2 separate regions of the Homo sapiens genome follow, and region 1 is linked to region 2. Evidence: fine-mapped expression QTL. A gene starts in region 2. The other region holds a variant in brackets. All regions are shown on one strand. Distances are from middle to middle. Region 1 overlaps COL23A1 (collagen type XXIII alpha 1 chain). Region 2 holds the start of PHYKPL (5-phosphohydroxy-L-lysine phospho-lyase).

Region 1 (4,381 bases), 35 kb after region 2:
GAAGAATTTGAAGACACCCCCTTAGCTCCCTGCTGCTCCTTTTATAAAGGGCCTCAGGCTGGGAACTACTGGCCTAGACTCTACTTATTAAGGCAGAAAATGGGCCTGACACTGGAGCAGATCCTGGGAGAGGTTCTTAGGCTCTTTCCTGGCCAGCCTGCCTGCTCCTCCCTCAGGGATTGGATGGCTGAGGTCTAACCCTGCAAACGTGGGGTGAGTTGGGGGTAACACAGCAAGCCATCAGGTCCAGACCCCCACTCAGCCAGTCTACCTTGAGGATCCGGCGATTGTACAGGTGATGGTCTCTACTTATAAAGCCCGGATTGAGCCGTGGGAAAACCATCTAGTCAGCAGATAGGTTGTGTGGTCAGAAAGGCAGGAAGGTGATCTGAAGAACTACAAGGCTTTTTGAAACCTGGAGGCAAAGCCACTTAACCAAGCCCAGAGAAAGGCAGTTAGGTGATCAGGTGTGCAGACTCCTTCTCCAAGGATGGCTGCTTACCAGCTGAGCGCCCACCAGCATCCACGCCACCTGCGGCCATGTGACGGTGCCATCACCCAGGGCTCCCGGCCTGGCTGCCTGCAACCTCCCAAGAGAGCCTAACCCTTACCCAGGGGCCATGAGAGATAATGGCAATTGGAGTCTTAAGCCACTACTTTTTAAATTTTTTTTTTTGGAGACAGTCTCGCTCTGTCACCCAGGCTGCAGTGCTGTGGTGCCATCTCGTCTCACTGCAACCTCTGCCTCCTGGGTTCAAGCAATTCTCTTGCCTCAGCCTCTCGAGTAGCTGGGACCACAGGCGCACACCTCCACACCCGGCTAATTTTTGTATTTTTAGTAGAGATGGGGTTTCACCATGTTGGTCAGGCTGGTCTCAAACTCCTGACCTCAAGTGATCCACCTGCCTCGACCTCCCAAAGTGCTAGGATTACAGGCATGAGCCACCTCGCCCGGCCATTAAGCCACTAAACTTTGTGTGTGCATGTGTGTGTGTGCGCATATGTGTGTGTGTGTTGGGGGGTGGTGTTCCCGATGACTGGGACACTGGGACCATAGGGAGGGTATCCACGAGGAGGGTTGGGGGATTGGGAGGAGATCCACTCTTCATGACCTCTGGGCCTCAGGACTTCTAGTCTGTTGAAGAGAGGGCATCCCCTTTTGGAATATCAGCTCCACACACCCACCAGGAAAGCAAGCAGAAGGATTTTTCTCAGCAGCTAAAACTCAGCATGAGCGCCCTTTCTTTGACTGCAGAACAATCTCACCAGCTTTATGTGGCTGGCACAGAGCAGCTGTGTTCGTGCTCACAGCTCAGGGGCTTGGCCTGGCCAGCCCCCTTCCCTGCTCCTGCTCACAGCTCAGGGCCGCGGAGGTGCGGAGCAGGCGCCCGGCCAGCTCTGACCACAAGCTGCAGCCCCGCTCTCCGCACTGCGGCTCCCACTACCTTTTCTTTCCCATAACAACCTCTTGGGGTGGGGGCTGTTCCCCCATTCACAGTTGAAGAAACTGAGTCTCAGAGAGCAAAGTGACTTGTTCAGGGTCACTCAGCTGGCAGGTGGCAGAGCTGAGCTTTGAGCTCAGTTCTGCTGACCCCAGAGCCTTCCCTCTTTTTGGGGTGCCAGCTGTCCTCAGGACGCTGTCTCCAGTCTGGGGTCACGTGCCAGCCCCACTGTCCAGCATCCACAGTGGTAAGCATGGAGACCTGGCCGTCTTCCAGAGACACTCCACCTGCGCAAGAGGGGCAGCCCCACAACCCAGGTCCCTGGGGGCTTCCACCGGTGCTATGGGTGGGGAAGAGCCCTCTTGGCCTCTTTCTGTGATGAGCTGCGGGGAGCTGGGACCCAGAAGCAGCGCCAGTTATGCCTCATTATTACACAAAACAAACCATGTGGGCAGTGAGGGAGGTCATGCCTGGTTCTTACCCGGGGGCCAAAGTCTCCTGGTGCACCCTGGGAACAAAAGACAGGGAGAGGCATCACCACTGCTTTCATCGTTTCTTCACATTTCCCGTCGGGCATCTGTGCCCAGTGCTTCATAGACATGGTATGACTTAATTCCAACAAAAATAGCAGGCAGGCCCTATTTTTATTTCCATTTCCAACGAGGAAGCAGACACAGTGAGGCCACTTAACCTGCTCAAGGTCACACAGCTAGCAGATCCAGGACTTGAAGGCAGGTAGGTGTCCCCTTATCTAGGGGGCAGCCCCAGCCATTCGAGGCCCCAGACA[T/C]TGTGGAGCAGAGACAGCCCCTCCCACTGTGTCCTCTGGAAGGGACGGTAATGAGTAAATGTTGCTTTACACGGCCAAGTTTTGGGGCAGTGCATTAAGCAGCAATAGACACCAAGACACCAGTTCTCTCTGGTTTCAAAGCCCCTGATGGAATCACTTCTATGACACGGTGGCATCAGCCAAGGCCGGCAGGAAGGTAATCAGGACACCTGCCAACTGCACTAGTCTCTTCATTGACAAGAACATTGAGACCATGACCTCATGCAATCTCTCCTGTGGCTCCGTGAGATTGGTCTTAATTTACAGATGGGGAAACTGAGGCCCACACAGCCCGGCAACTTGGCCAAGGTCACACAGTTGGTGGTGGAGCTGGAATGCAAAGCCGAGCTTCTGAACACCAGCTCCCATGCCTCCCCACGGCTCCCGCAGCCCTGGTGGTTGGGCGGGAACCCTGCCTGCCTGGCCTGAGCTGCGGAATCACAGCAGGGCCCATCTGCAGATCTCACTTCCCATTTCCAAATTCTGGGTCGGGGGTGGACATGGTCCAGCTGTGGGAGCACCCGGCTGGCCCTGGCACACCTAGGCCTACTCTGGTCCCTCCCCTGATTTTACCGTGGGTAACACAGGTCTCTTCTGTCCCTTTCTGAGACACTTGGTCCCTGTTTTCTAGGGGGCTTTAGTGCCTGATACCAAGGAAGCCTTCCTCCCAAGGGGCCGCAGAGATAGCTGTCCGCCTTGTCTTCCTGATGGGTGTCCTCCCCACAGAGAATACCATTAACAGTCATGGTTCAATCCCCAAGCCCTCCTGGCACCCCCCTTCACCATGAAGTCCTCTGGACACTCGTCATTCTGGGAACACCGGGCCTCCGAGTTTGGTTATGCTTTGGTCCCAGGAGAACTCAAGACTCAACTCTCTGGGCAGGCCGTATTGTCAAATGTAAGCCTTGTAATCATTTTAGAAGGTAGGCACTGTGATTCCCACTCTACAGATGGGGAAACTGAGGCTCTAGGAGGGGCTGTGATGTGCTCAAGGGCACACTGGAACTGGCGTTCGGAGGCAGGTTTCTGGGATTCTTCGCCTGCCTACCACATCTGCACAGCCTCTGGCATCACTTACCTTTTCCCCTTTCGGGCCTGGAAGTCCCTGGAAAAGGAAAGTGGAGAAAGAACAGACCTGAGTGAGGGGCCTAGGCTGGCTCCCCTTCTGGCTTCCCTATACCTCTGAGGGCAGAAGGGCCCGTGATGCTGGGCGGCTGAGTGGAAAATTACACATGAGCTCTCAGCCCTCAATGAGAGCTGCCCTGGCTGGCCCAAGGAAGCTCCACATCTCAGTCCTCAGCATGAGGGATACGGGGGAATTGCGGGTGACCAGCAAGGGCCCACTGGCATCCTCGCAGCAGAGAAAGGGGCACATGCACTGGCCACTCCTCCCAGAGAGCACACACGGTCAGTTCCCTACTGCTCAGCACCCGCCCTGTCATTGTCAGTGGGAGACCACTGCCCCCAAGCCATCTTTCTGGAATCTGAGAAGCAGGCAGTAGACAGAGATTCTCTCTCCATAGGCATTCTCTTCTTCTTTTTCCTTTCTTATTTCTTAAAAAAAAAAAAGCATTCTCTTCTTTAATGGTAGCAGCTCCTTGGAGTATGGGTTCCATCTGTCCATCCCTGTATGAGTCATCCATCCATCCATCCATCCATCCATCCATCCATCCATCCATGTATCCATCCATCCATCCACCCACCCACCCATCCACCCACCCATCTATCCATCCATCCACCCACCCATCCATCCAACCATCCATCCACCCGTCCATCCACCCACCCACCCATCCACCCATCCACCCATCCATCCACCCATCCACCCACCCATCCACCCACCCATCCACCCATCCACCCATCCACCCACCCATCCACCCACCCATCTATCCACCCATCCATCATCCATCCATCCATCCATCCACCCACCCACTCATCCATCAATCCATCCATCCATCCATCCATCCATCCATCCATTCATCCACCCATCCACTCACCAATCCATTCATCCATCCATCCACCCATTCATCCACTATCCATCCATCCACCCATTCCCCCACCAATCCATCCATCCATCCATCCACCCACCTACCCATCCACTATCCATCCAACCACC
Region 2 (4,381 bases):
CTGGCTCCACTCAGCCAGTCCCACTGGGCCTCCCCCAGCCCCAAGCTATAAACCCAGCCAGAAGAGATGTAGTTCTAGAGGGAGAGGTAGAAAGAGGGCAGTCTGAAGGCAGAGCAGGGAGAGAGAAGCTGGTTCTGGAAAGGCAGATCCAGGAGTTCCTGAGATTCTGGCAGAAGGAAAGCCGCTTCAGCAGAAGAACCCTGTCTAGAAAGCCCATGTCTTTAAGGAGGACTTTTTTTTTTTTTTTTAACAGGGCCTTACTCTGTCACCCAGGCTGGAGTGTATGGTGTGATCATGGCATTCACTGCATCCTCACACTCCTGGGCTCAAGTGGTCCTCCCACCTCAGCCTCCTGAGCAGGTGGGGCTATAGACACCAGTCACCATGCCTGGCTAATTTTTAAGTTTTTTTTTGGTAGAGACAAGGTCTCATTATGTTGCCCAGGCTGGAAGGCCTTTTGAGGCTTGTATGACAAAGGTGGGGTGGGGGGTGACTGTCAACTGGTTTCACTTCACCAGCCAAGGGGGCTGGTGGTAATCTTGATTGTCAAAGGCCAAGGATAATAACAGTGAATATGTACTGAGAGCTCACCATGTGCCAGGCACATTCAGAGCAAGCTACATAAATTAACACACTTAATTCTCCAAACACCTTAAAGTGGGTACCTAGTATCATTATGTCTTTCACAGATAAGCAAACTGAGGCACTGAGAATTAAGTAACTTGCCCGAGATCACAAGTTAGTAAGTAGGGGACAGGGATTTGAGCCCAAGCAGTCTAAGACTAGAGTCTCTGCTTTTTTTTTTTTTTTAACCTCAACTTTATTCATCTTCCATGTGCCTGCTGAGTCTCAGACTCCCTTTCTTTCCATCAGCTCTGGCAGCCTCATCAAGATGACTGAATTCCTACTTCAGCTCCCTTGCCTAGCACCTGAGATGGCCAATGGGGCTGAAGCACTGCCATGACCCCAGCACTTGGCCAGCACTGTGCTACGTTGCTGGTCACAGCTGGGCCATCTGCCACTTTGTGAGCTCATCATCAGTCCCAAGTGGAACTAGACTCACAGACCTAGATTGCTGACCCCTGCCTGGTTTAGCACAGCTCCAGATTGCAGAATTCCACAGCTATATTGCGAAGGCTGAGCCTCCTCTGCATACTGACAGTGCCTCAACTCCACCCAGGTTCTCCACACCTCTCGGCAATCTCAGGTCACCTTGGGACCAGGTTCACAGCACTGCCTTCCTCTCCTGCCCTGCCAGCCTGAGGTGTGATACTGACCGTGCGCCACATTGCTGATGCAATCGATGTATTCTGCCCCCTGTTCATCGTACATGTACTGCCCTTGGGCCCGGACAATCTTAACAGGATCCTCGGGAAAAAAGAGTCTGCAGGAAGAGCTGTGGGGACAGGCAAGGAGTGGACAGCCATGTCTGAAGACCGAAAGGGTGAAGTCTACTCATCGCAGACCCCCGCCCACCCCTTCCCAGTTTCTGGTGGCGGGGGGGAAATGAGAGCTGGAAGGGCAAGGTGCTGCTTCCCTGCCTTGTCTCTCCACTCCACAGGTGGTTGCAAAGCAGGAAGCAGATGGGGTAACAAGTCGCTGAAACTTCGGATTGTTTCTGAAAGCATTTTCAGCCTCTGTGGCCTCCTTGCTCATTTCTGCATGTGTCCGCGTCAGTCTCCCGGATCCTGAGAAAAGGTGGCTGCCCCGTCCCATGGGGACTCCATAAGGCCGCGTGTCTTCGATGGGATGGGCCAGGGCACCAACATTAGGTGCCTGGCTCTCAGCCCTAAACAGCTCCTTGCCAGCCACGTGGCCCTGCTGCCCCTCGCTGGGTGCCAGCCCTAAGCTCCAGTGGGAGGCGACCTCACCCACCGTCCCACCGAGGGCCCCCTCACAGGTCAAGTGTGCTGCCTGTGAACCGACTCCCCCGACTCTCCCTTGTCTGCCCTTTCAGCCCCCTCCCAGGTCACTCTCGAGCCAGGCCCAGGTGCTGCTGACGGGCCACCCTGGGTGAGGTCCTCTCAGGCGCCAGGGTGAAGGTCTTCTCCGGAGTAAAGGCTGCCAAGCGAGGCTGACACAGCCGAACAGCGGTGAGGGCGGGGCCGTCTCCTGAACTGGGCGGCCTGGAGACGGCGCTGTCGGGGAGGCGGCCCCGGAGACCACCCGCCGGGACTGCCCAACGGCGCCGCCCGCCTCGGGCCCTAGAAGCTCCAGCGGGGCCGGGGCAGCGGCCGGACGGGATGGGTAGCAGCGGCTTCCTAGCCGGAGGCGCGTGCGTAGTGCGTGCGTGCGTGCGTCGTGCGTGCGCGTGCCTCTCCGCGCAGCCCCGCGCCCCCCGCCGCCCGCCCCCCGCCCGGGTACCTGATGAGCCGTTGCCTCAGGGCCAGCGTGTCGGCCTTCGGGCGCTGGTCTGCGGCCATGGTGGGTGGCCGTCAGTCGGTGCCGTGACGCCACGCGGAGACGTCGCCGCGCGGGCTGGGCCTCCAAGGCCCCGCTCCGGGCCCCGCCCCTGCCTGGGTCGGGATTTGGGGCTCAGGTTCGCACTCGGCCCCGCCCCGAAGCGCCCGCGTTGCGGTGGTTCATTTCTTCGCTTGCCCACTGGGCCTGGCAGCCTTCCGGCCCGTGGTCGTGCCTTGGCAGTCCCGCGCAGGAACTCGAGCGCTGCCCCGTCTCTGGTTCCGGGACGCGCCCCGGGCCTCGCCCCGCAGGCCCCGCCCCGCAGGCCCCTGCGGCCTCCCTTCCGGGAAAGGGTCCCGGACGACCCCGCCCCTGCTCCCGGCGCCCAGGCGGGGCTCGGAGCTCCTGCAGGCCTTCTCTGGGCCAGACTCAGTCTTTGAGTCGCCTTGTGCATAAAATGGGATGAACTGTGAGGCCTAAGTGCGAGTATGTGACTGGTACCTTACCCGGGCCTGGTACACAGTAGGGGCCTCAGGGTGGGAGAAGCAGGTCCTAGGTTTTCCCAGCCCCATGAAGGGGCAGCAGGAAGAGCAGAAGGAGAGCCCAGGGTCCCTTCTGGGGCTGACCAAGGAGATCACCATGGGCTTGACCTTCAGGGCACCATAGTTCCTGCTAGAATCTAGGCAGGGTGAACCGGACGAGCTGTATCGTCGCTGAGAGAATCATGCAGCGTTTGGGCAAGAAGAGAGGTTGGGAATCCTCCTTGTGGTACATGTCGGTGACCCTGAAGCCCAGAAAGGGAAAGGGTTTTGTTGTCAGACACGCAGCAAGGCTGCAGAGGCTGGACTCCTACTGAGGTCTTCTTGACTCCCAGCCCAGGGAGTGAGAAGAAAAAGCCTCCCAAGGGGCTGGGATATGAGAGAAAAGCCCCCTCCTGGGGTGAGGCACTGGGGCTTTCTGCCTTGAAGAACCCTGGAACACGGGCCTGGGACTGCAGCAGGTGCAGGGGAGGCTCCTGATTGTCCCTTCTTTCTGTCCACATCATGATTCCCAGGCCTCTGCTTCACTCCCTCATTGCTGATTTCTTCTTCTCTTCCCAATACAGTTGTAAGATGCATAAGGCATTTATTGAACTCTTGACCTCAGATGATCTGCCTGCCTCGGCCTCCCAGAGTGCTGGGATTACAGGCCGGGTGAGCCACCGCACCCGGCCGCTTAAGGCATTTATTAAAGAACATTTGGAGTTTCTTTTTTCTTTATTGTGTAAAATATACATAACAAAATTTTACCATTTTAACCATTTTTAAGGATACAATTCAGTGGCAAAAGTACATTCACATCGTCGTGCAGCCATCACCACCATCCATGCAACAGGACTTTTTCATCTTCCCTAAAAGAATGGAATTTCTTATTTTTAACTGTAAAGCTGAATTGAATATTTTACATGATTTTTGGAAAAAATTCTTCCCAAATTAACTGCGAGGTTAACTGCTTGTGGCCTGTATTTTTTTTTTTTTTTAAAGAAAGGGTCTTATTCTGTTGTTCAGGCTGGAGTGCAGCATTGCAGTCTCTACCTCCCTGGGATCATGTGATCCTCCCATCTCAGCCTCTCAAGTACCTGCTACTACAGGTGCACGCCACCATACCCAGCCTGTACTTCGTTTCTGAGGATCAAGACCTCACAGACCGTGTGTGTGTGTGTGTATTTGTGTGTGTGTGAGTCCTATTTGGGCCCCGCCTTTCAGCCCTGTCTTGCAGCCCAAACTCCAGCCACAGCTGTGGCCCCGTGCAGCTCAGAGGAATCAGGTTGGCTCAGGGGCTTTTCCTGCTTTAAGGCAGAGGGTGAGAAGGCTGTAGCTGGGCCCGGCTAACATCTCACCTGCTCCTGGGTCAAGAGGTGATATAGTTGGAGGTCAGACCAGGTTGAGCCATTTCCTGGGCCAGGAGTATCTTATAGCATGGCACAGAACACCAGGAGGCC

Evidence for each region. PIP is the estimated chance that this variant, and not a neighbour inherited with it, causes the effect.
Region 1: its variant is the best candidate, but not a certain one, in a credible set for the expression of PHYKPL in tibial nerve (GTEx, PIP 0.88).

What each region holds. Positions count from the first base shown.
Region 1 is chr5:178,265,384-178,269,764 of GRCh38, forward strand. COL23A1 (collagen type XXIII alpha 1 chain) reads right to left here. Exons shown (of 29, transcript NM_173465.4): 7 at 3,347-3,373; 8 at 1,924-1,950. Among named protein-coding and RNA genes, the nearest start is that of PHYKPL, 35 kb to the left of the region's middle. The variant T/C (reference allele first, on the strand shown) is at 2,230.
Region 2 is chr5:178,230,128-178,234,508 of GRCh38, forward strand. PHYKPL (5-phosphohydroxy-L-lysine phospho-lyase) reads right to left here and starts at 2,675. Exons shown (of 13, transcript NM_153373.4): 1 at 2,365-2,675; 2 at 1,278-1,396. The coding sequence starts at 2,423. It overlaps LOC112267937 (a long non-coding RNA gene), which reads left to right and starts at 3,911. Exons shown (of 3, transcript XR_002956238.2): 1 at 3,911-4,381. RefSeq lists silencers at 2,100-2,419, 2,500-2,909 and an enhancer at 2,299-2,837.